Homo sapiens: one gene and its partners. The protein of the gene in region 3 interacts with the protein of the main gene of each other region in a pairwise test. Each region holds a gene or a part of one and is shown on either strand. Other genes may lie near its edges. The genes, in order: BOK, IQSEC1, GDAP1 and DDX20.

The links.
Region 1: the proteins of GDAP1 (region 3) and BOK interact in binary tests that used the Homo sapiens proteins (3 or more experiments, as listed by UniProt).
Region 2: the proteins of GDAP1 (region 3) and IQSEC1 interact in binary tests that used the Homo sapiens proteins (3 or more experiments, as listed by UniProt).
Region 4: the proteins of GDAP1 (region 3) and DDX20 interact in binary tests that used the Homo sapiens proteins (3 or more experiments, as listed by UniProt).

The regions. Positions count from the first base shown.
Region 1 is NC_000002.12:241,554,681-241,561,778, reverse strand, and holds the start of BOK (bcl-2-related ovarian killer protein), read right to left. Parts: upstream 3,035-7,098; 5' UTR 2,786-3,034; exon of another isoform or gene 2,636-2,785; intron 2,561-2,635; exon of another isoform or gene 2,325-2,560; 5' UTR 2,296-2,324; coding exon 2,076-2,295; intron 1,709-2,075; exon of another isoform or gene 1,515-1,708; intron 1-1,514.
Region 2 is NC_000003.12:12,909,409-12,916,460, forward strand, and holds part of IQSEC1 (IQ motif and SEC7 domain-containing protein 1), read right to left. Parts: intron 6,326-7,052; coding exon 6,186-6,325; intron 5,726-6,185; coding exon 5,696-5,725; intron 4,146-5,695; coding exon 4,020-4,145; intron 2,321-4,019; coding exon 2,221-2,320; intron 27-2,220; coding exon 1-26. UniProt on the Homo sapiens protein: Guanine nucleotide exchange factor for ARF1 and ARF6. Guanine nucleotide exchange factor activity is enhanced by lipid binding. Accelerates GTP binding by ARFs of all three classes.
Region 3 is NC_000008.11:74,353,359-74,360,410, forward strand, and holds part of GDAP1 (ganglioside-induced differentiation-associated protein 1), read left to right. Parts: intron 1-6,778; coding exon 6,779-6,952; intron 6,953-7,052. UniProt on the Homo sapiens protein: Regulates the mitochondrial network by promoting mitochondrial fission.
Region 4 is NC_000001.11:111,765,901-111,768,500, forward strand, and holds the end of DDX20 (probable ATP-dependent RNA helicase DDX20), read left to right. Parts: coding exon 1-999; 3' UTR 1,000-2,100; downstream 2,101-2,600.

The DNA of each region.
Region 1 (7,098 bases), on a different chromosome or scaffold from region 3:
CCCGCACTGCCACGCTCCCACCTGGGCTGGCTGGGCCGCTGTCCTGGGCCACCCGCACTGCCACGCTCCCACCTGGGCTGGCTGGGCCCCTGTCCTGGGCCACCCGCACTGCCACGCTCCCACCTGGGCTGGCTGGGCCGCTGTCCTGGGCCACCCGCACTGCCACGCTCCCACCTGGGCTGGCTGGGCCCCTGTCCTGGGCCACCCGCACTGCCACGCTCCCACCTGGGCTGGCTGGGCCGCTGTCCTGGGCCACCCGCACTGCCACGCTCCCACCTGGGCTGGCTGGGCCCCTGTCCTGGGCCACCCGCACTGCCACGCTCCCACCTGGGCTGGCTGGGCCGCTGTCCTGGGCCACCCTCACTGCCACGCTCCCACCTGGGCTCTTGCTGCCAAGGGGATGTGCTTGGAGGTGGCACTGCATCAGCCCTGCCCCTGGCAGCCGAGGATGGCCCCTACAGGCCCACCGCCCCAGTGCTGCCTGTGGCACCCTTGGCAGCAGCAGCGCACAGGCACGGGGCAGATGGTGCCGAGAATGCCACAGGGCCCTGGGATTGGGAGTCCGCAGCCCGGCCAGTTCTCCAGCCAAAGCAAACAGGGTAATGCTGCTGACCGGACCATCCCAGCTGATAAAGGCTGCTCTGTATCTCATTAATTAAGATCTGGAAGCAGAGCAGAGCCCATGAGAGGCTGGCTGGGGGCGGGGGACGACATGGAAATTCCCAGGACTGACCCGGCAGCTCCCAAACACAGATCTCCGGGGCTGCTGCAGGCTGGCCCCAGACTGAAGGTGGGGACACAACCCGGGCTTCTTCCTGTCTGCACTGCCCAAGGGCAGGGAGACAGCGCTGGCCTCAAGGGACTGACCCTGAGCAGCCGTGAGGGCAGATGCAGGTCTGAGCTGTGTCCCTCTGGGGTCCCCCTAGACATCTGGGACTTCTTCCCAGCCATTCCAGGGGTCTGGCATCATCTTTTCAGAAGGCCACTAAAAGGATCCCCTAGGGTCATTCTCAGAGCCCGACTAGAGGCAGCAGCAGGCGGCGGATCTCATGGAGCCCCACCAACCCCCTAGCTCCCACCCAGAGACCTCTCCCTCCTTCTGAACTTCTCAGATGGGACTCCACCTCCTCCTGGAGGCTCTGTGCTGGTCCCCATGGATTCTGTCTGCACCCCACACACACTCCTGGGCAGGCCAGGTCTACACAGCTTTGCTCTCTGGGCCCAGCCCACCACGTAAGGGCAGGGGCCACCTAGAGCCCATGCCAGCGCCAGCCTGAGAGGAGGCAGCGTGTCCCCTCACGGGGTCGTGCCCTCCGACTCCAACCCCCTGCCTGGAGAGCCACCGATTCAGTTTCACCTATGCTGTCACCTCCCCTTCCCGGGCTCAGCCACAGGCGCCCCATGTGCCCTCTTCGGGCATCACATAAACATTCCCAGGTGACGGCCACAGCCCAGCTGTGGTGAGGGGACTGGACAGTCACAGTGGGGCTGGTCCCTCCCTCTTGGGTCCAGACCTTGGAGACGGTGGGGGCAGCCAGTGGACCGTGTGTGACCCCAGAACCGAGCACCCCCAGATGTCCTCACAGCACCAACGAATACTGAGGTTTTGGCTACCCAGCCCGGTGGGCGCAGTTTCCAATGGGGGGGCCTCGGAGGCCTCGGAATCCAGAGGGCAGCGGGCGGGATCTCGGCCAGTAACAGCAAGAATCTGTTTTCCAAAATAAACATCGGGACACGTGCTCCTACAAAGGGTTTCTGTGCCCAGCTGAGAACAAGGGTCACTGTGGAAGCTTAGCCACCCACTAATAGATTATTCTTTCTGGAGCTTTCTATTGTTTATGGCCAGCATGACTGAAATCTGGGCTGAGCAGGCAGCTGATGGGGGGGCCTGTGGCGTGGGAGGCCTGAGAGGGCAGATCCGGGAGCACCCGCCTGGGTGGCCCTGTCCCGAGCGCCTGGCCGTCCCAGGCAGGGGGTGGGCGCCCCTGGGCCGGACCCCCATCTCGGCCTCGGAGGGAGGCTGCGGCCCAGCAGGGGAGGAGGCGCAGCTGGGGATCCCACCAGGGCGCACTCACCCAGGCGCAGCAGCACCGCGCACACCTCAGCCAGGCGTCCCGGGACCGGCGCGGCACGCTCGGGCGCGCTCCAGGAGAGGCCGGCGCGCAGCAGCCGCGCGTGCACGTACTCCCGGCCCAGCGCCTTGGCCTGGGCCACCAGCTCCTTGTCTGTGGGCGAGCGGTCAAAGGCGTCCATGATCTCGGCGGCGAAGACCGAGGAGCGCCGCAGCACCTCCATGGCGGCGACGCGGGTGGGGGGCGCCGCACCTGCGGGCACAAGCGCTCAGCCGGGTGGAGGGAGGCGGCGCGGGGAACGGGGCGCGCGGGGCGCCGGGCTGGGCGTGGCCCTCGGGAAGGGCCGTAGCCGGCGCCGGGTCCGCTCTCGTTTTTTGTGCCCCAAATCTTTAAAAACCCAGCGCCACCTTCTTTCAGAGCCCGAATTCAGCTACAGACATTCCCCGAGGCTGCCAGGGACCGGTGGGGCCGCGGGGAGACGGCGGTTTGCTCCGGGGCCGCCGGGCCCGCCCTCGAAGACGAGTGCGTGGGCGGCGGGGGCGGAGGGCACAGCCCAGCGCGTCCCCCACGGCGACTGCCAGGACCCGGCCCTCCCCGCCCCGGCCCGGGGCCGCCCACCTCCGCCGCTGGCGTCCTGCGCGCGTGTCCCCGGCCTCGCCGTTCCCGTGGCACCCCGGGCACCCCGGCACGGACGCCACGCCCGCCGCGCTCACCTCTCCCGCCGCATGGCGCGGGCGCCGGGGTGGAGTTCTGGCTTCAGGATCTGCTCGCCGCCGACGACGACCTCGACCCTTCCATTCAGACCCGCGAGGACGCGCGCCCCGCCCCGGCGCCCGCCCCGTCCACGCCCGAGCCGGGAGCGCCAGGTCCACGGGGCTTCCCGCGCTCTTGGGGGGCTCCTGCCGCGGCGTCGGGGGCCTGGGCAGCGAGGTGGGCAGCGCGCGACTCCCAGCTGGCGAGAGGCTGGGCTTGGGGCTTGGCCTTCTAAGGGAAAGGCAACCCTGGGGGCGGAGTCGGGGAGACGCTTTCCGAGCTTCCCCGCTTAAGGAGGACCGAGCGAGTTCCCTGGATGCGCCCGGAGAAGGCGACCAGGCCGGAGCGGCCCCCGCAAGGCAGAGCAGTGGGGACCTAGAGCCAGCCCCAGCCGCCTGGGTGTTCCCCGGGGTCCATTTGAAAATTGGGTTGTCTTCTTCGTTCGTAGAGGTTCTTTCCAGAGTCTGGAGACGTGTTCTTGGTCCGGACGCATGCCCTTTGTATTGTAGATGGATTATTGGATTCGCATTTATTGAAGTTATTGCAAATATCTTCCTCTATTTTGTGGTTTACTTTTGCTTTGGATGAACAGGAGTTACTCTTAGTGATGTCCAATTTATCAATATTTTCTTTATGGTTAGTACCTTTTTATTGGGATATCCTCCTGTATTTCCTTTTAGAAGCTTGTTTTAGGGCTCATATTTAGATCTATGATTGATTACATATTAATTATTGTGAATGGTGTGGTACGGGGCTAGAGCTCATTTTTTTTCGTGTAGATATCCAATTGACCTGGCATCATTTATTGAAAAGCATCATTTTTTTTCCACCGAATTGGAGGAGTCCCCAACATCTCAACATAAATCAGCTGAAGAGTGTGTGTGTGTGTGTGTGTGTGTCTCGGAACTCTATCCCACTGGTTTATTTCTTTATCCTTGAATCAACCTCACACAGTTTGAACAATAGGATTAACCAACTTGGCCTAATTCACGTGTGTACAACACTATAAAATACTTATTCTTCCCATGTGCACATAGGATGTTTATCGAAATAGACCATATCATGGACCTTATACAAGTCTCAGCAAATCTCAACGGATTGAAATCTTACAGTGTGTCCTCTCTGAATTAAAAGTCAATAACAGAAAAATTACTGGAAAATCTGCAAATGCTTGGAAATTACATGTCACACTTCTAAATAATCAATGGGTCAATAATCACAGTGGAAGATTAAAATATGTTGACAAGAACAGTGAAAAATAAGACATATCAAATGCTGTACAGTGCAACTAAAACACTGCTTAGAGGAAATTTGATAGCTTTAGAAGAAGGATTGAAAATTAGGCCAGGTGAAATGACTCAGACCTGTAATCCCAGCATTTTGGGAGGCCTAGGTGGGCAGATCACCTGAGCTCAGGAGTTTGAGACCAGCCGGGTCAAAATGGTGAAAACCCCGTCTCTACTAGAGATACAAAAAATGAGTTGGGTGTGGTGGCAGGTGTCTGTAATCCCAGCTACTAAGGAGGCTGAGGCAGGAGAATTGCTTGAACCTGGGAGGCGAAGGTTGCAGTGAGCAGAGATCATCCCACCTGCACTCCAGCCTGGACAACAGAGTGTGATTCCATCTCAAAAAAAAAAAAAAAAAAGGAAAAAGAAAAATAAAATTACTGCTCTAAGCTTCCACTCAAGAAGCTAGAAAAGAACAATAAAACTAAAGATGAAAGGAAATAATAAAAATAAGAGCAGAAATTAATGGAATAAAGCAAAAAATAGAGAAAATCAACAAAGCCAAAAATTGGTTCTTTGAAGAGATTAATAGAACTGATAAATCCCCAGAAAGATTGAGTAAGAAAAAAGATAACACAAATTTCACTATCAAGAATGAAAAAGAGGACATCACTGTAGATACTACAAGCATTAAAGGGATAAAAAGATAGTATGGAGGACTTTTTGACAGTGCATTTGAAATTTTAGATGATACACAACTTACCAAAACTGACACTAAAAGAAATAGAAAATCTGGATAGTCCTACACCAATTAAATGCATTGAATCTGTAATTTAAAATCTTCCCACAAAGAAAATTCTAGGTTCAGATGGTTTCATTGAGAAATTCTTCTCAACAGTTAAAAAAATACCACCAGTCTCATACAAACCTGCACAGAGACTAAAAATGAGGGAGTATTTCCCAACTCATTTTATGAGGTCAATGTAATTTTAATACCGAAACCTGTCAGGAACATTACCAGAAGCTAGGAAAGCTATGGAACTTCTATCTGCTATGACTTTCCTGTCTGGGAAGTAGGAAGAATAATAATACCTACCTCCTAGGATTGTTGAGAGGACTGAATTCTTTTTTTTTTTTTTTTTTTTTGAGACGGAGTCTCGCTCTGTTGCCAGGCTGGAGTGCAATGGCGTAAACTCGGCTCACTGCAACCCCGCCTCCTGGGCTCCAGCGATTCTCCTGCCTCAGCCTCCCGAGTAGCTGGGACTACAGGCACCTGACACCACGCCCGGCTAATTGTTTGTATTTTTGGTAGAGAGGGGGTTTCACCATGTTGGCCAGGATGGTCTCGATCTCTTGACCTCGTGATCTACCTGCCTTGGCATCACAAAGTTCTGGGATTATAGGCGTAAGCCACAGCGCCCAGCCTGGGAGGACTGAATTCTTAATCCATGTCATGTAGTAAGTGCTCAGTCATTGTTAGCTGCTTTTTCAGAAAAGCTGTAGTACAGTAAAATCTGAGGGTGCATTTTAATGAACTCTTTAATGTAGAGTCTAGAGCTCCTTGGACAGTGTGCGCCTCAGATTTCTGAAGAGCAGTCAGGTTTGGGATTCCCTGTAGATAGCATTACAGAAATGCAGAGAGGGAAAAGATCTCGCCCAAGGAGTCACTGCAAGACTGGGCATGGCCAGACTGTAAACCTTGGGGTCTAACTCCATGGTTCCTGAAGTACCTCTGTCAGGGGAAGAGCCTGTACTTGCAGGCAGGAGACCAGGAAGCTCACACCTGCAACCTTCCCGCTGTGTAGCCTCAGGCAACTTCCTGCCCCATTCACAGGCTCAGTTTCCTCCTGTGCAGAATGAACTCATACTTCCTGCTTCCTGTCTCCTGTTGGAGCCGTCTCCTGGGCTCTGACATGGGGGTAGTGGGCCACTGGGCATAATTGATAGACATGTTCTGCATCCCAGGAGCTGCAGAAACCAGGTAAAGCTGTGTCTCTGGATGTTCAATATGGAACATTGCTAGCAGTAAGGAACTGAAAATGACCTAAGTGTGCCAGGCGTGGTGGCTCATGCCTGTAATCCCAGCACTTTGGGAGGCTGAGGCATGTGGATCACCTGAGGTTAGGAGTTCGAGACCAGCTTGACCAACAAGGTGAGACTCCGTTTCTACTAAAAATACAAAAAATTAGCCAGGCGTGGTGGCGCATGTCTGTAATCCCAGCTACTCGGGAGGCTGAGACAGGAGAATTGCTTGAACCCAGGAGTCGGAGGTTGCGGTGAGCCGAGCTCATGCCACTGCACTCCAGCCTGGGCAACAGAACGAGACTTTGTCTCAAAAAAAAAAAAAAATGACCTCAGTGTTTATGAAGAGATCAAGCCCAGCATGGTGACACCGCACTAGTAGTCCCAGCTCCTTGGGAGACTGAAGCAAGAGGATTGCTTGAGCCCAGGAGTTCAGGGCTGTAGTGCCTGTGAATAGCCACTGCACTCAGCCTGGGCAACTTAGCAAAGACGGGTTTCTAAAACAAATTTTAAAAAGAGAGCAGATGAGGAGATTAAGCAATCTGGAGTACCTAGACCGCAAACCCTTATTCAGACCTTAAAAAACTTGGGTCATGCTGGAGTTAGCTGAGGTCTTCCTGTCCACTGAGACCTGGAGGAGGCCCAGTCCCAGCCCTCAATTTCCCAAGAGTGCTTTGACTTCTTGGGAGCCTACATTTCTCCGGTCACCTTTGGCCCTGATTTTCTGTCTCTGCAGAACTCTTACATCCACTCTTGCCATGCAACTGACTCCTCTCTCTGCCCCAGTGTTGACCTAGCATGGAACTCGGTCCCTGGTTGGTGAGTGGGCTTCTGAGCGCTGATACCAGCCCACCAGACTGGCTTAAGCACAGGGCAGTTTGTTGATTTGTGTGACCAGAGAGAGGTCGGTTGGTTTCAGGCATAGCTGGATCCAGGAGTCTCTTTCCATCTGTGCTCCCCTGTGATGGCTCCACTCTCAGACAGACTGTCCTGGTGTAATTGCAGGATAAAGCCCACAGCTCCCT
Region 2 (7,052 bases), on a different chromosome or scaffold from region 3:
GGTGAGCCGGATGCCATTGGGGTAGTCTGCAAAAGGGAAGGAGAGGGGAGGAGGCCCACGGGTCTCAGTGTGTTCTCTGCAATCTCCTCTCTGGTCAGGAAACAATGGTAGGGCTGAGTTGTGCGTGAGCCTGGGATAAGTGCCGGGAGTCCAGCCTCCGCAGTGGCAGGCTGCAGGGGTGCAGAGCAACCTCATCTCCCGACTTGGGAAAGATGGTCTGTGTCGCTCCACATGTGACTCAGGGACAAAAGTGGTCGAGCTCAGGGGAGGCTGCTGGGGCCGCGTCCTGGAGGAGGACAGAGGTTGCGTCCTGAGAAAGGTGGGAGTCTTCTCTAGTCATCTCAGTTCTGGACAGCAGTGAGCGCCATATTCTCCCGAATGGCCTGTGGCCCACAGCTCCCATGGGGTGCACTATGGGCACTCCACAGCCAAGGAACCCTGTGCCCAGACCTGCCTGGTGCCACCTCCGGGCTCTCAGGGTCCCTGGGGCTTTGGTCTCCTGGCGGTGCTGCTCCGGCAGTGGGAGTCACTGGCAGAGCATCAGCCACTGGATGTTTGAAGGTTCTTGGACCAAGTACCAATCCCACCTTGGCTCAGACCAGGTGGGCCTGTGGGCAGCTGCAGAGTGCTCCTGTGTGCATATGTGTGCACATGTATGTATATGCAGCCCATTACTGCCACGTGGGAACATGTGCCTAGTGACACCAAACCTTCTGATTTTCAGAGAGGCCCAAAATATCTACATTTTGATGTAGAGACTGGCTCAGCAAACTTTTTAAAAATATGCAAACCATATAAAAGATAACTGAGCTGGGCCTGCCTCCCAGGCTGTCAGTTTGAGACCCCTGGAATGACGGCATGTCCTATAGAAGCTGCAGGCTTGGCTCTTGCCAGCACCCGGCACCCACGATCTAAGGCCAAGCCCTGGGACCATAGACATGATCCAGGTGCAGCCTCTGCCCTGATGGTCCACAGTGGTCCTGGCCCCCTGCTGGGAGCTTTGCTGCCAGGATCTCACTAAGTTCCCACCCTAGCCCTGGGCAGCAGGGGTCAATGCCACCATCTCAGAGAGCAGGCTACTGCTGGTCAGGACAATGTGGGGATGGCACTGGCCTCCCCTGGGACCAAGGCAAGGCATGACTTGCAGCCTGCGATGGGACAGGAATGGCAGGAGGTGGGGAGGCGGCCAGGGCAGGCATGCCATGCCCCTTGTTGGGCACGTGGGGAGCAGGGCATACAGGGAGTGCAGGGTCTCCTACCGGGCTGTCCCTGGTCCCACTGAAGACTGAAGGGGACAGAGAGCCCCAGATCCAGGCGCAAGGCCTGTGGTTTTGGATGGTCCAGCTGCAGGTCCCTGACACTGTTCTAATCCGCAGATGGAAGGCTGATTAGACAGACAGTGACACCTAGTTCTGAGAGGATAAGGGACCCCTACTGCTCAAGCACGGACACTCAGCTTCTTTCCCTAGGACACTCCAGGTGGCCCCCTGCTCCCCAGCCCAGGAGGACTGGCTCAGCCTCCAACAGGGAAGGGACAAAGGAGGGGGAAGAGAAGCCGTGGAGAGTGAAAGGAGCAAGGTAAAATGGAAGCCAGTGGGGTGCTGCAGGTGTGAGCCTCCCAAACTCCCAGGTCCCCAGGCCTCACCCAGGGCCTTCCAGCAGGGCATCAAAATTAACCCTTGCAAAGCACTGTGTTCCGGCAGCTATGATGGGGGCCCTGTGGCAGGCACTACCTTACAACCCAGGCAACAGAGGCCAGAGGGGTTGCAGAGCCAGGCCACACAGCAGTTGAGCCAGAGCTGGGATCTGACCCAGGCTGAGGGGCTCAGTTCTTCACTTCCGCGGACACTCATGGGTTGCTGTCACCTGTGTTCTGGGCCATGTTTGCATATCACCTATGACTTAATGTTTTTCTATCAACATTTACATAAATGTATTTCTGCCATAAATTTAAAAATCTTATCACCTGCAAGAAACGAAGTACCAGTAAAAGCAAACTGAGTGTCTGTCCAGTGTTATTACATGAGGCTCAGCTGACTGATGGGCCTCTTGAGGGTCTGTGCCTACAGCTCACCGGAGCTCCTAGCTGCAATCTGCTCTCTGGGGATAAAACAGGGGTGAGCGTCGAAGCCCCCCGCGGTTCTGTCCTCGAAGCAGCCAGGAGAAAGAGCGTAAGCTGGGACATGCGCTCTTCCAGGCAGGCCCTGGGGGCAGACTTACACTGGTTCTCGAAGAGCAGGACCTGCATGCCGTACAAGGAGAAGGACTGTCGGAAGCTGTACGTCACCGAGTTCTTCTTCTTCTGGAAGATCTTGGTGACCTAGAGGCAGCCAGAGACAGAGCTGAGCTACAGTGTCTCGGGGGGCACTGACTATGTGGGACCTCTGGTCAGAGGATCCTCCTGGAGTTCAAAGTCAGGAGGACAGGGACAAGCCCACGTGAGTGGAGGGCATGGGCTTCCACTCCAAGACTCGGACAACGGTTCCTGTCCCCGCAACCCCGATGCCATCTTGGCTGGCAACAAAGCCCCACAACCTGACATAGAGGCGGTAGGCACTTCACAGCACGGAGCCCCCTCAAGTGCCTTCTCACAGCCAGGTGAGGTGTACACACCCGGGGCTTGGCACCTTGAGGGGCAGGAATGGACAGGTGGTGCTCACTAGCGCTGACCTTGGTAAGAAGCCATGGCTTCCTTTCTCGGGAACAACCAGAGTGTGAAGCTATGCCTGGTGATGGCCTGCAGGGAGACTGGCCCCTGGGCTAGCGACGTGATCCCTGAATCCCAGCTGGCCCGCCACGGTCCTTGGCTGCTATTCTGGTCTACAGTAGGAAAGGAACTTTCCAGTGTGGCAGCCAAAGGCTGGGCTGGGAGGGGAGAGGGGAGCTCACATCTCCCCGGTCTCCAGGGCATGCCAGGCACCATGTAAGGTCTTACGTCCAGGACCTCACTGGACCCCTGCCACCTTCTGAGAGATTCATCTTACAGAGGAGGAAACTGAGGCTCAGAGATGTGAAGGGATTCGCTCAAGGTCAGGAGTTCTTCATAAAGGATTTGAACTTACACGTCTGATTTCAACATCAGTGGTCAGAGAGGGTTAGCCAGTCCTCATACCCAATCAAGAACATGGGCCTGTAGTCCCAGCTACTCGGGAGGCTGAGGCAGGAGAATGGCGTGAACCCGGGAAGCGGAGCTTGCAGTGAGCCGAGATTGCGCCACTGCAGTCCGCAGTCCCGCCTGGGCGACAGAGCGAGACTCCGTCTCAAAAAAAAAAAAAAAAAAAAAAAAAAGAACATGGGCATCTTTGGCAAGAAAGCCCGTGGCATGCAGGGGTACAGAAATCCAAAGGACAAGCTCTCCCTTCTCTCTGCAGTGGGCACTTCTGCCCCCGTCTGGCTAGCATCCATGCCACCTTTTTTTCTGGCAAGAGCTCCCCAGTTTCCTTTTGGGGAAACCTCCAGCCCTTGTTTCCTTCAGTCCATAGGTCTTGCAGGGACCAGCTCAGGGCTCCAGGAGGTGGGGCTTGGGACCTAGGCCTAGCCAATCAGAAAGCACTGCACCTGCCTGGCCTGGAGAGGCTTAGGGAGGGATGTGCAGCGACAAGCGCTAACTCTGCAACCTCTGCTCAGTCTAGGAAGAGGATTCTACAGTTGCTCAGCAGACAGGATCAGGTCTGGAGCTGCTGGGGCCACCTTCCCCTTCCTGGACAGAGCCTGTCTGAGGAAGGGGCCTGCCCGAGGAAGCGTCACACAAGGTACAGGTGCAGACAGCACACAGGAGTGCTGCTGACGTTGGCAGAGGCTCTGGAAACAGCTGGTACTAAAGCCAAAGATCTCCCTCTGGACCTGTGCATGAGCCAATGAAGTCTGTCTTCATGTGCATCAGTGTGAAAGACACCAGGCAAACCCTCCCTTTTGCACCCCCACATGCATGCACATCTTCCCCACGCAGACAGCCAGACATGGACCCTGGGCTCAGGCTTGAGGTCCCTGCTACAATGCCTTGTGGGTGAGCCACATACCACCAGGAGGTCGTTGAACAGGAAGATTTCTCGCTGGTGTAGTCCGAGTTTCTGGGGCTTGTTTGGGTCTGGAACCTCAAAGAGCCGGCAGTAGCAGACCAACCGACGGTGGGGCAGAGAGAGCACCTGTGTGGGAAGAGGCTGTCCTGCCACGGCCGCCCAGCTCTCCTCTAGGAGCCCTGGGGGCCGCAGTGGAGAAGTCTAGCCCTTCAAGCTAGAAACCCGGCACGTGGGCCTTGAGTTAAAAAATGCCTTCCCTCACAGACATTGAAGAGCAGATACGTCTTTTGGCTCATGGCAGTTTCCCGTACTCTGTTCTCAGGAGCCACTATTTAAAATCCCGTATCTCTGCTCTCCTGAAGGACTAGGGACGTGCCCCAGCTTCTGCTGAGACCTCCTTTCCATTCTTTTGGGCAGGTACCAGGCTTCTTAAACTATCACGTTCACCTGGGAGCCTCTGGCCAGACAGCGAGTCACATTTTGAGTCCCCACAAGTGCCGGTCATAAACATGAGGCCACTCAGCCCTGCAAAAGTCTTTACAGAGAGAATCTGCTCTAGATGAGGAAAAACTGAGGCACAGAAGTAACGACAAAACTAGGAAGTGGCAGAGCCAGGATCCAATTCCAGGCCCCAGGACTTTTCCCACCCAACCAAGCCTCCCCATAAAAGATTCCTATGGTCCTGATGCCTGAAAGACTCTCCAAAATCCTGAGCCAGCAGCCAACACTCTGTGGCACTTGCCCTGGACCCGTCCTCTGCTCCCCACAGCTACCCTGAACATGCCCCTGACAGCTCACGAAAGCTCCCAACACGGTCATAGCTCCAGCTGCCCTTGAGGCCCAATGCCTCAGGGCGAGGGATGAGCCATCAGGGCCTGGCTCTGGGAGTGCCCAGGTTCATGCAGGATGGGGGAGGCGGTCAAAGGGGTGGGATCCCCGGGATCACCGTCCTGAGGCCAGAGGCTTGACTCTACCAGGGGTGCTCTAGGCCAGGGCTGCCTGAGTTTGGCACATCTGGGGGTTAAGATGAGGGGGAAAATGTGGCCCAGCCTGGGGTGCTTAGGTTGCAAAGGTATGAAGGAGAGAGGATGGGAGGGTTCGGGGAGCACTGGCTGGAGGTGGGAGGGGACTGGTCTCTTGCAGGGGAAGCTGGGGAGGGTGAGGGCAGGCAGAGCGGCTTTCAGGACTGAGGGACAAAGCCAGTCCACAAGGAGGGTCATGGTGAGCAGCCCAGTCACCCTGTGTGCATGTGTCCTGGGGCGTGTGGGCACACCACAAAGCTATGGCAGAGGACGGGTCCTGGGGGTGAGGAGGCAGGCACTGGGAGAGCCTGGGGCATGGGATGTGGGGGACAGAGCACAGAGCAGGGCCAGGTAGCGGACAGGGCAGGGCCTCAGAGGACACACCGGGGTCTGTTTCAGGCGCAGGGTCTGGGGGCTGGGCTCAACAGGGCGTCAACAAGAGGGAGCAGGAGTCTCCCCTGACAGCACAGCCTCAGGGCCTGCAGAGATCTGAGGCTGGGGTAATTACGAACATCTGATTCTCAGCACCCCAGCAATGAACTCAAGCAGCCAGCACTTGGGCTCTGGGAGCCTGGGGAGCCGGCGGACTGGCTGATGCTGGGCCTCCCCAGGGCGGCGGGCTACCCACAAAGGTAAAACCAGAGAAATACTCACACAGCCGAGCCCGGGATGCAGGGATCCGATCTGCGGGAGAATGTGAAACCAACAAAAGGGTGTTCATGTTTCAAAGCCACGCCCAGGCCAATGCTGCAAGTGCCCCTCCCTACACCTACCCTTGGGATCCACCCAGCCAGTATGTGGGGTACCCACTCTCTCTGGCAGAGCTCTCTGAGGGGTCCCAGGGGACTCCTGGACCACCCAGGAAAGCCTGCCAGTGTCGGGTGCCCAGAACTCAGCCACTGCACAACCCTGGCCTGCTAGATCATTAAGAGCCTCAGCTCTCTTCAGATTGTAACGCAGAGCCAATAGCTGTTATTCCCAAATATGACAGGAGACACTCGAAAAAACCCCAAGCCCTGGCAGAATTCACCAGCCCTGCTGGAAGAGACCACACGGAGTGGGGTGGGTGGGAGTGAGAAGGCCTGGCAGGCAGCCCCGCCCGGGTGGTGCTGGGGCCCACCACGTACCAGGGCCCATCACATACCGGCTTTTTCCCCACAATGAGCTTCTCCACCTTCTGCACCTGGGACACATGGTCCTCATTGGTCTTTAGCTCTCGCTTACGGATCCGTTCATAGATCCCCATCAGCATCTCACGGGGAATGTCCTCACCATCGTCCACACCTGGGTAGGGGATGCAGCTGGATATCAGGGTGGGCCCCAGGCTCACTCGATTTACCAGTTTCTAAAGCAAATCAGAGGAGCGAACCTTCCACTAGACCCAACAGAACCAAAGAACTCCCAGGCAGGCCCACAGCAACAGGACATTTTCAGTCAACACAAATTTCCTCAGTCCTCCTACCAGAACGGGCCCAATACATCCGACCCGGTCTAGTAGGCGATGGGTGTCAGGGGCTGAGCCACCTCTAAGCCATTTTCAGAGGGCTTTATAAATGCTACCCTGCTCCATGCTAACCACAGCCCTTCGAAGTGGGTATAATCATCTCCATTCCACAGATGGGAAGACTGAGGCTGACGTGTGGGGAGGCTGGAGTATAGGGAGGCTGGGGTTTGTTTGGGCTCCGATGGACCTGGGGCCACGTCCTACTTTCACCCTTACTAGCTGTGTGACTATGGGCGAGTGACTGCCTCAACCATGCTTGGTGTCCTCCTCTAAAACACCTTGCCCACAGCACAGGCTTGTTGTGAGGAAACGAGGGGCGCCTGGGGCGTGCCCAGCTCTGCATCTGAGCGGTGGGAGTGCTGCAGTGGTTGCTGTTGCTGGCCCACATCACATGGGCAGAGGCTGGAGGCTGGGCTCTGACCCGGGGCTGCCCTAACCACAAGCACACACTGCTTCTTTCTTCCTCCCCACTCTGAAAACCGCTGTGAGCAGAGAAACAGCCTTATA
Region 3 (7,052 bases):
GAAGGACGAAAAAACGATTAAGGGACCCAAAACTTATGGTAGATAGGACGACAGCAAGAGAACAATAGTTTATATAAATCAAGGCTAAGTTATATAAATCGAGGTCAAGAAGAAGTTTATCTCAGAGTACTGAAATTTTAAAAACAGCGTTATCACAATTATAATTAAGATGCTTTATCTTTAAGAACTCATGGAGAATGAAAGTCAGACAAGATAGACAAACATCCTATTGTCAAAGACGGGGAAAAGTGAATTCTACCAACCCTTGCTACTAATTGTATGTTCCATTCATCAGCAGCATTGGTGTCACCTGGGAGCTTGTTAGAACTGCAGAACCTTAGAGCTCTCTGCAGACCTATCAAATTAGAATCTTTGTTTTAACAAGAGCCCCATGTGATTCGTATGTACATTAAAGTTTGAGAATACTGCTATAAATTAGTGTTTAGTTAAGTAAGCACTGGTGTAAATTACTGTCTTTAAATCTGGTGGAAATTTAGAATAGATTGTGAATAGTTATTTAAATATGTTAAAATTTTTGTGTATCTCAGTGAAAGGAACCAATTTAAGTTTTACACTGCTGGAGAATGTCCCTAACACTTCTAAAAAACTGTCTATTATGTGCCAGGCATGGTTCTAGATATAGTATATCTTGATTTAAGTAGAACATTTGCGATTACGTTACATATACCCTTGTGGAATAAAGGAGCAAATATAGCTAGAAGATTGTAACGCACATTTGCAGATGAATAAACTACCATATTAAAGAATATTACTTTATAGATTTCTCATACCAGATTACCTCTTCAACTATAGACTCTCATTTTACTTATAATTGTTTTTATACTTTATTTTAAATGTTTGAATTGTACACCACTGTAAGTACCATGAGGTTGGGAATAGTGTATCTTATGAAAAATTATCCCCAATGCCTTATACAGTGAATGTTTCTTAATAGGTGCTTAATAAATATTTTGAATGATTAAAATGAATAAATTATTGAAACAGATGTTAGCCTGTACAGGGATCCCTTGTAATGTTCTTGTAGGCTTCTTTTTTGACTTGAGCCTAACAAATCAATGATTTGAATAGACATGGAAGAAATACGATTACATTTGTGAATGACAGAAAAGGTAAATAGTCAAAGTGATGACTAGCTTATAAAATATTTCTTATGGAAATACAACAAAATGGAAAAATAAGATAAAGTTTAACAAGGCTAAATGTAAAATGGCTATGAGGAAAATAGGCATGAGACTTTTGTTTTAAAAAACCAGCTGCATTCCAAAAGAATGGGGAACCTGGTTAATAGATAGTAAGTTACCAATGTTAAAACAAATGGCTAGTGTGATTTCAGGTTCTTTGAAAACTGTAAATTTTGTTGAGAACAGGGTGAGTTGTAACCCTCTGCATTCTGAGCTGTTTGGAATAGTTGACATTTTGTCCAATTATGGATGTAACTTTGAGGAATGTTGATGAGATAGAATAAGTGGATGGATTTCATGAGGTGTGCAGTCGCCCATGGTCATGACAGGAGACTGTAAGTGTAGCCATTCCTCTAAAGAACAGAATGTAGTGAACCAGTATGTCCTTCACTGTTATTTGCTGTCCCTTGTTATCGATCCAGTGGGGATTATGCGAAAAACGATGACTTGCTGATCTAGAAACATTTTTCAACTTTTTTGTTTACATTTACATATTTCTATCCTTGTACTTTCGGGATAGTTCATTAAATAATTGGTAGTTTGGTAGCTGAGGTCACCCTTTTCAAGTCATAGCCTGAAATAGTGAATATCTGTTGGATAATGGCTGTATTTGATTTTTTTTTGGAAAGCAGTCATACAGAAGAATGGTATAGACATGAATGATGCTCCTGACTGCCAAACTAAGAGCTGGCCGAGAGCTATCTCTTCATTTATTCTTTAAGTAACCATTTATTGGGTATTAATTTGGTATAGGGTCCTGGGATACTTCAGAGATGTTTTAAAGATCCGAAATCATTAGCAGCTTGCTAGTCTTCAAAGATAATTTCTTTCTATAAGTTTGCTGATAATTCCAAATCTGTCCTTAACATATATACTTGCTATTACTGTACAGTTTTATAGACTCTTTCATGTACATGATACCTCTTTAACTCTGAGCATGTGGTGAGGAATAGTTATTTTACAGCAAGCAATTGATTAAGCTAGATAAGGTATGAGAGTAAGCAAACTAGGTAAACTGAGAAAGAATGGATGTGACAAGGTGAATGTACACACAAATGTGGATTTTTCAATCTATCTATTGTACTCATAACCTCTTTAAATAAAATTTAACTTGGCTACTAATCAAAATTATATGGAATAACTATAAAATACTAGAACATATGTATTACTACCAAATAACTCTGGTAACCTGGAATCAAGAATAATGGATTTTTGTGATTTAATGTAACAGTTCTCTGAACATCACGTTCATGTCTTATGTCTAGATATATAATTTATTCTTAGGAAATAGAATTTAGTTTGGAAATAAACTATTCTAGTATGATATTAAAATCACGTAAATCTTATTAGGATATCTAAATTTATAGATACAATGTTATTTATAAAATACATTTAAATGTTACATTTGAATTTCATCAAATGTAACATTTAAAAAAGAACGTTAATTCTGATGTCACTGTTATATTAAAAATAGTTATTTAAGGAATTACCAATTAATATTTATATTTGTGTTCATCAAGAAAAGGCTCTTGTATATAGTTGAATATAGGCCTTTTAGCACATATACTGAAATTGCAGATTAGCACAAAATGTGGAGAAAATATACCATATGGCATGGAAAAGAATATCAGTCTTTGATTATTGTGTCAGTAAAAGTTGCTTTAAAAAGTAACTTTTCTTCTCTTTGTGATTTGTCCAGTTTTAGCAGACAGGTTGGGGGTATTAAAATTCAGAGGCCCTCTTTCTATATAATATGTATCTAACAATTGGAACAAACTGTCTGATAAAGGAATTTTTGCTTCCATCATTAAAAATGTTTCTGTTAAAAGTCTTAACTGTAATACCAGTTAAAAGTAGTTAAACATTTAATGTATAGTGCATAAAATTTATTGACAATAATGCTATAAATTTGTCTCAAAATCCTGGATGCATACAGTGAACTGATATAATTTGACACCGGGTCTTTTTGTTTTTTTTCTTATCTGTATTTAGATTTGCTCTTTCTAGTTCAAGAGTTATGACAGCACTGAATTGTAATCAATCAGTTTGCTACCATATCTTTTGCCTCAGGTCATAACTTAATTGTTTAATATTATTTAGTGTGTGTGTGTGTGTGTGTGTGTGTGTGTGTTTGTGTGTGTGTATATATATATATATTTTTTTTTTTTTTTTTGAGACGGAGTCTCGCTCTGTCACCAGGCTGGAGTGCAGTGGCGCAATCTCGGCTCCCTGCAACCTCCACCTCCTGGGTTCAAGCGATTCCCCTGCCTCAGCCTCCCGAGTAGCTGGGACTATAGGCGCGCACCACCACGCCCGGCTAATTTTTTGTATTTTAGTAGAGACGGGGTTTCACCATGTTGGCCGGGATGGTCTCTCGATCTCCTGACCTCGTGATCTGCCTGCCTTGGCCTCCCAAAGTGCTGGGATTACAGGCATGAGCCACCGTGCCCAGCCTATTATTGAATTTTTTAAAAATAGCCTAGTGTGTGACTAGTTGAAGGGTACAATATTATTCAGCTGTATTATGCATATTATATACTGATGCAATCACTATACAGTCTAAGTAAAATAAACAGCAAAGGGCTAGAGTGAGGAATGAAATCTAATCTGTTTCCATTGAGCTAGTAGTAAGGGAGACTTGAAAGTTGTACAAGTAGACCTAGGGGAGTCTTTCTTGAAAACAAGGCATAATAATGCCTCCTTTATCTGCCTTTACTAGGAAAGATGGGTAACCAGAGTAGTGAATTTTGTAAAATAATGAAAACTTATGCCTTTAAGCCCCTAATTTCTTTTTATGTTTTACTCTTGGGAAAACCAAATGTAATTTAAAAAAATGGCTCAGAGCCATTGTTATTTTACTCAGCATTACAGGGACTTGAGAATGTAGAGGCCCATTTGTCTCCATTACATGGCTGCAGAATGCTTTTATTGTTTCTTTCTGATTTTATTTTTTGCTTCTTTTGGTTTCCTCTGCTGTTTATCAAATCTTTCTGCTTTATGTCTATCTGCTGGTTTATAATTTGCTGCCTAAATTTATGTGTAATATAAAACTTTTCCCCTACTCAGTTCTTCCGGCAAGTCGGATCTTGTGCCAACTTATTTGTTCTTCTAGCTTAATACCAAGCCTCATTTCCACTGTTGCAATCCCACTCCCCAATGCTGGGACCTCCTCTCATTGCCTGCTTCTTAAAACTCCCTAATTCTCTGTCCTGCCCCGCTATGCCTTATGTTGCTTTCCCACTCCTGATTGAGGTACATTACTGAGAAAAAAATTCTTGCTTTTGGTATTTTGATAAAGGTACTCTACGGAAGAACTGGAAAATAAAATAGGATGGGATTGAGAGGGAAGATCTCCTCTATAATTCAAAGGAAATTCCCAGTTTTCCTTTGAAAAACTCTTTTATCAGAAGCAGCAGATACTGTTGTGCTTCAGTGTGAGGATGGCAGCGCAGTGCCCCTGTGATACTGGAGAGGGCATGCTTGATGCGCACAAAGAAAGAGAGATGGGGAGATAACTTGGGTTCAGTGGGTATCTCATGCTCTGACAGAGTGCTTCAGGAAATGGTTAGACAGTAACGGCACACTGAGTAGAAGAAAATTATTTTCATGGATTTAAACATTTGTCCTCCTTGAAGAATTTGGGCTTGGCCTGATGGATCTTCCCCAGAAAGCAATTAGACATTGTTTTTCCTGCTCTCATTCACTTTCCTAGGAAGGAAATGGTATGCTCTTCTGGAGAGAAGCCCCAGGGCCCAGTACCAGAAAGCAGCCAGAGCCACTAGCCATTACTTGGACCTTTTGGGAAGCATTTGAAAATGTACTATTTAGGGTTATTAGCCTGAGGTTCTTGGACCCCTAAAGCATTAGTTCTTAAACTTTTTGGTCTCTATACCCCTTTGTCTTTGAGGATACCAGAGAGCATTTGTTTATGTGGATCATAGCTATCAATATTTACCATTTAGAAAGCAAAACTGAGAAAACTTAAAATATTAGCCTGGTTAAGCACAATCCCACTAGCTGTCAGAGTGATAGAGTCATGTTTCCTGTAGCCTCTGGAAACTTCTACTGTACACTTGAGAGAGAATAAGAGTGAAAAAGTAATTAACGTCTTAGTATTTCTATAAAAATATCTTTGTAGATCCCCCAAACATGTTTTAGGAAAACCCAGGGATCCTCAGACCATAGTGTGAGAACTGTTGCGCTTAGGGGTTTATGAATAGAATTCAGGAGATTTGAGATCTTGGATAGGGAATAATTGTATCTCTATTTAAAGGAATTATTTCCTTCCATTAGCAATGTAGGCACAATCCATGGCAATATCAGGAGTGCTTCTGGCTTTGATAACCAATAGAACTCACAGATATGTTCATGGTTAAGTTATTGCAGATATCTTAATATTTTGAAATTGTGATAGTTATTAGACCTGACATTTTTTAGGGACAGTTTGACAGCCAGAGATAGGAAGAGATTCTGAAGGGACATAGCCCTGACCTTTGGGTTGCATCCTTCACTTTTATTCTTTTTCGATAGTCTATGAAATGAAAATCCTTTGAAAATGTTATGATGGTATAATCAAAGAGAACATTACATTAGGAATCAGATGACTTTAGTTCTAGCTCTGCCTCTAATTAGCTGTGGGATCTTGGGAGAAATTTTCAGCCCTTGTATCTGAGTGTACATGTTAACTCCTGCAGCACTTCTCCAGCTCAAGTAATCTATATAATAATTGGAAATTTTGGAATGTATTCATTGTAATTTATTAAACACCTACTACATGTCAAACATTATACTAGGCACTGGGGATTTAACAGAGAGCAGTACATGGTCCCTGCCCTCAAGGACTCTACAGTTTGGATTTTAACTAGCAAATAAGGATGTATGTAGAACCCACTTTCCAGAGATAATTGTTAGAAATTCCTGGGGAAAGTGCACCTGCGATATTTGAGCAAAGGCCTTTCCTGTTCCATATAGATTGTCATTCACATTCACATGTGTCAGTAGGGTCACTCTTGATGTTGGTTGGCACCTAGAAAAGAGTAGCCCCTGATTATCTTTCCATAATGAGCCCTCATTCAATTAACCAAACTTTATTGAGGGCCTCAAGTGTGTGGAGAACTGTGCTAGACTCTGGATTGCAGGTTCCTTTCCCTGAAGACAGTCATGGGGAAAAAAGATGCAATGAATTACAGTGTGATAAGGGCTGTAACAGAGTGTGTGTAATGTGTTATGGATGTATAGAAGAAGGCACATGTGAGCCAGTCAGATGTTGGCAGTTGTAGGAGGTTAGGGAATGCTTCATGGAATAAATGGCATAAATAACTGGGCCTTGAGGGCTGAGTGCAGTTTGCAAGGTGAAGAAATGAGAGAATACCAATGTGATTATGGTTTGGGATCTTGTCTGGTGCATCAGGCCATTTCAAACTTTGAATGAATGTCTGAGGTGAGGAGACAGTGTTTTTTGAATATACAGATATGTTGAAAATGTTAATGATGAGTGGATAGTGTTTTTGTTTTGCTTTTGAGTGTAACAACTCATGTGTAACTTTTTCTTCAATATTTGTGTGTGTGTATTTTAGAAAGAACACCCAGGTTAATGCCTGATAAAGAAAGCATGTATTACCCACGGGTACAACATTACCGAGAGCTGCTTGACTCCTTGCCAATGGATGCCTATACACATGGCTGCATTTTACATCCTGAGTTAACTGTGGACTCCATGATCCCGGCTTATGCAACTACAAGGATTCGTAGTATGTAAACATTTTAAAGACCTGGAATTCTGTCTGACACTTTCTTTTAATTCATTTTGAGACCTAGCATGTCTCATGGTCACTAAAAGAAGATTGGGAA
Region 4 (2,600 bases), on a different chromosome or scaffold from region 3:
ATGGCTTCCTCTAGAAATAATTCTGTATCTGGACTATCAGTCAAATCAAAAAATAATACCAAACAAAAGCTTCCTGTGAAAAGCCACTCAGAATGTGGAATCATAGAAAAAGCAACGTCACCAAAAGAACTGGGCTGTGACAGGCAATCCGAAGAGCAAATGAAGAATTCTGTTCAGACTCCCGTTGAAAACTCCACCAACAGTCAGCACCAGGTCAAAGAAGCTTTACCTGTGTCACTCCCCCAGATTCCTTGTCTGTCTTCCTTTAAAATCCATCAGCCATACACGTTGACTTTTGCTGAATTGGTAGAGGATTATGAACATTATATTAAAGAGGGGTTAGAGAAACCTGTGGAAATCATCAGGCACTACACAGGCCCTGGGGATCAGACTGTGAATCCTCAAAATGGTTTTGTGAGAAATAAAGTTATTGAACAGAGAGTCCCTGTGTTGGCAAGTAGTAGCCAATCTGGAGACTCTGAGAGTGACAGTGATTCTTACAGCTCAAGAACCTCTTCCCAGAGCAAAGGAAATAAGTCATACTTGGAAGGCTCTTCTGATAATCAGCTGAAAGACTCTGAATCTACGCCTGTGGATGATCGTATTTCTTTGGAACAACCACCAAATGGAAGTGACACCCCCAATCCAGAGAAATATCAAGAATCACCTGGAATCCAGATGAAGACAAGACTTAAAGAGGGGGCTAGCCAGAGAGCTAAGCAGAGCCGGAGAAACCTACCCAGGCGGTCTTCCTTCAGATTGCAGACTGAAGCCCAGGAAGATGATTGGTATGACTGTCATAGGGAAATACGTCTGAGTTTTTCTGATACCTATCAGGATTATGAGGAGTACTGGAGAGCTTACTACAGGGCATGGCAAGAATATTATGCTGCCGCTTCTCATTCATATTATTGGAATGCTCAGAGACATCCAAGTTGGATGGCAGCTTATCACATGAATACCATTTATCTACAAGAAATGATGCATAGTAACCAGTGATTATAGGATATACCTGAGACCATCAGGAACTGTCAACAAATGATACCTTTGGATATCCATCCTCCTCGACTTATAGTACAGTGGTGTATAGTGGCATTTCTGATAAACTTGAAAAGACTTGAGTCTTTCCACTGGGACACATCCATTTTTCAGATTGTTTTGATTTAGGCCAGGTATATTATCTTCATTTTTAAGAGTTTCTTTAAGAAACTTCATCAGATTGTTGAAAGATAATTTTTGGGACATAGAGCTGAAAGTTTCAGGGTGCCATTTTCTATAAGATCTTCCCAAAAGAAACATTTAAAAAGATGACATATACCACCACTTACTTAAAAACAATAAAAGCAATAGATTTGATTAGTAATATTATTGCTGTGGAGTTCTTTACAAAGGGCTTAGGCTGCATTTCCTTCTATAGAGGTGCATTCTTGTAGAAATTTGTAGCATGGTAGATCAGAAAATCCTCTTAGGTTTTAGGCAGGAAGGAATATTTAAACATTGCTTTAGATTTTCCTAAAGGTATTTGATTTGATCTGTTAGCTTCCAGTAAAAATATTTGTTTTTAGTAAAAACAAATTTAAATATATTTACATGTTTGTTGTTTATCTTTTGAATGTCTTTTGAGGCTGTGAAAGCTGTCCACATTTTTGCTGTGTATTAAATAGCTGTGGGTCATCAGTTGCTGTCTTACTTGTGTTGCTCAGATAGAGGAGCAGCTCTTAATCTTTTTTGGTTCTTGGATCCTTTTATGAATCAGCTGATAGCTATAGATTGACTTCAGGAAATTTCTCATTCCATAAGCACAGAATTGTGAGTGTAATTTCAAGGGGTTCATAGACCCTCTGAAGTTCATCTATACAGTCCAGATTAACAAGTGACCTGCTCTGCTGGTAGGCTAGGGGAAGTTCTAGCTCTTAGTTTTAAGTATTTTGTGGAAGCTGGAATTGATTCTCTTCAGACACTTCTTAGTACATCCTAATTTTGTGTCTTCTAGAAAATTTTCCCCAGTTTTTACCTCTAATGTTAGGATCCAAGAGGAGCTTGGATCTGAGCTGATGCATCTGTAAATTACGATTTAGAAAAATATAATTGGAAATTACATATTCTTTGCTTTTTTCCTCTGGAAATCCTTTTATGATTAAGCTTTTGGTTCCCAAGCCTTTCTGTGAACTGGATTTTTTATGAGAGAACCACTTGTGTAGAGAGATGTGTATTCACTTTTTAAAAGGAAAGCTCTTCTTTCCTGTGTACATACTTGTCTAGGTAGTATAAACACTTTCCCCAGGGCTGTCAGCAAACACCCACAGCCATTGTCATTTATTGTCCAACACCTACATAACACAATTCTAAAATCCTACTTAACTTGGATTCCTGTCATTTGGATTGGGCAATATTAGGCTTTTCTTACATGTGTCAGTATGTGAATTAATTAATAATGTAGATAGCAAATCCATAATTAGGTCCAGTATGTCATTAAGAAGTAGAGATTTTAATTACACATTTAAATAAGATCCTGTCATTGATATATAATTGAATTTACTTTTTCCATCCTTTCCCCCACAATACAGCCAAGTTCAGTTTGTCATTGCTGGGGGATTTTA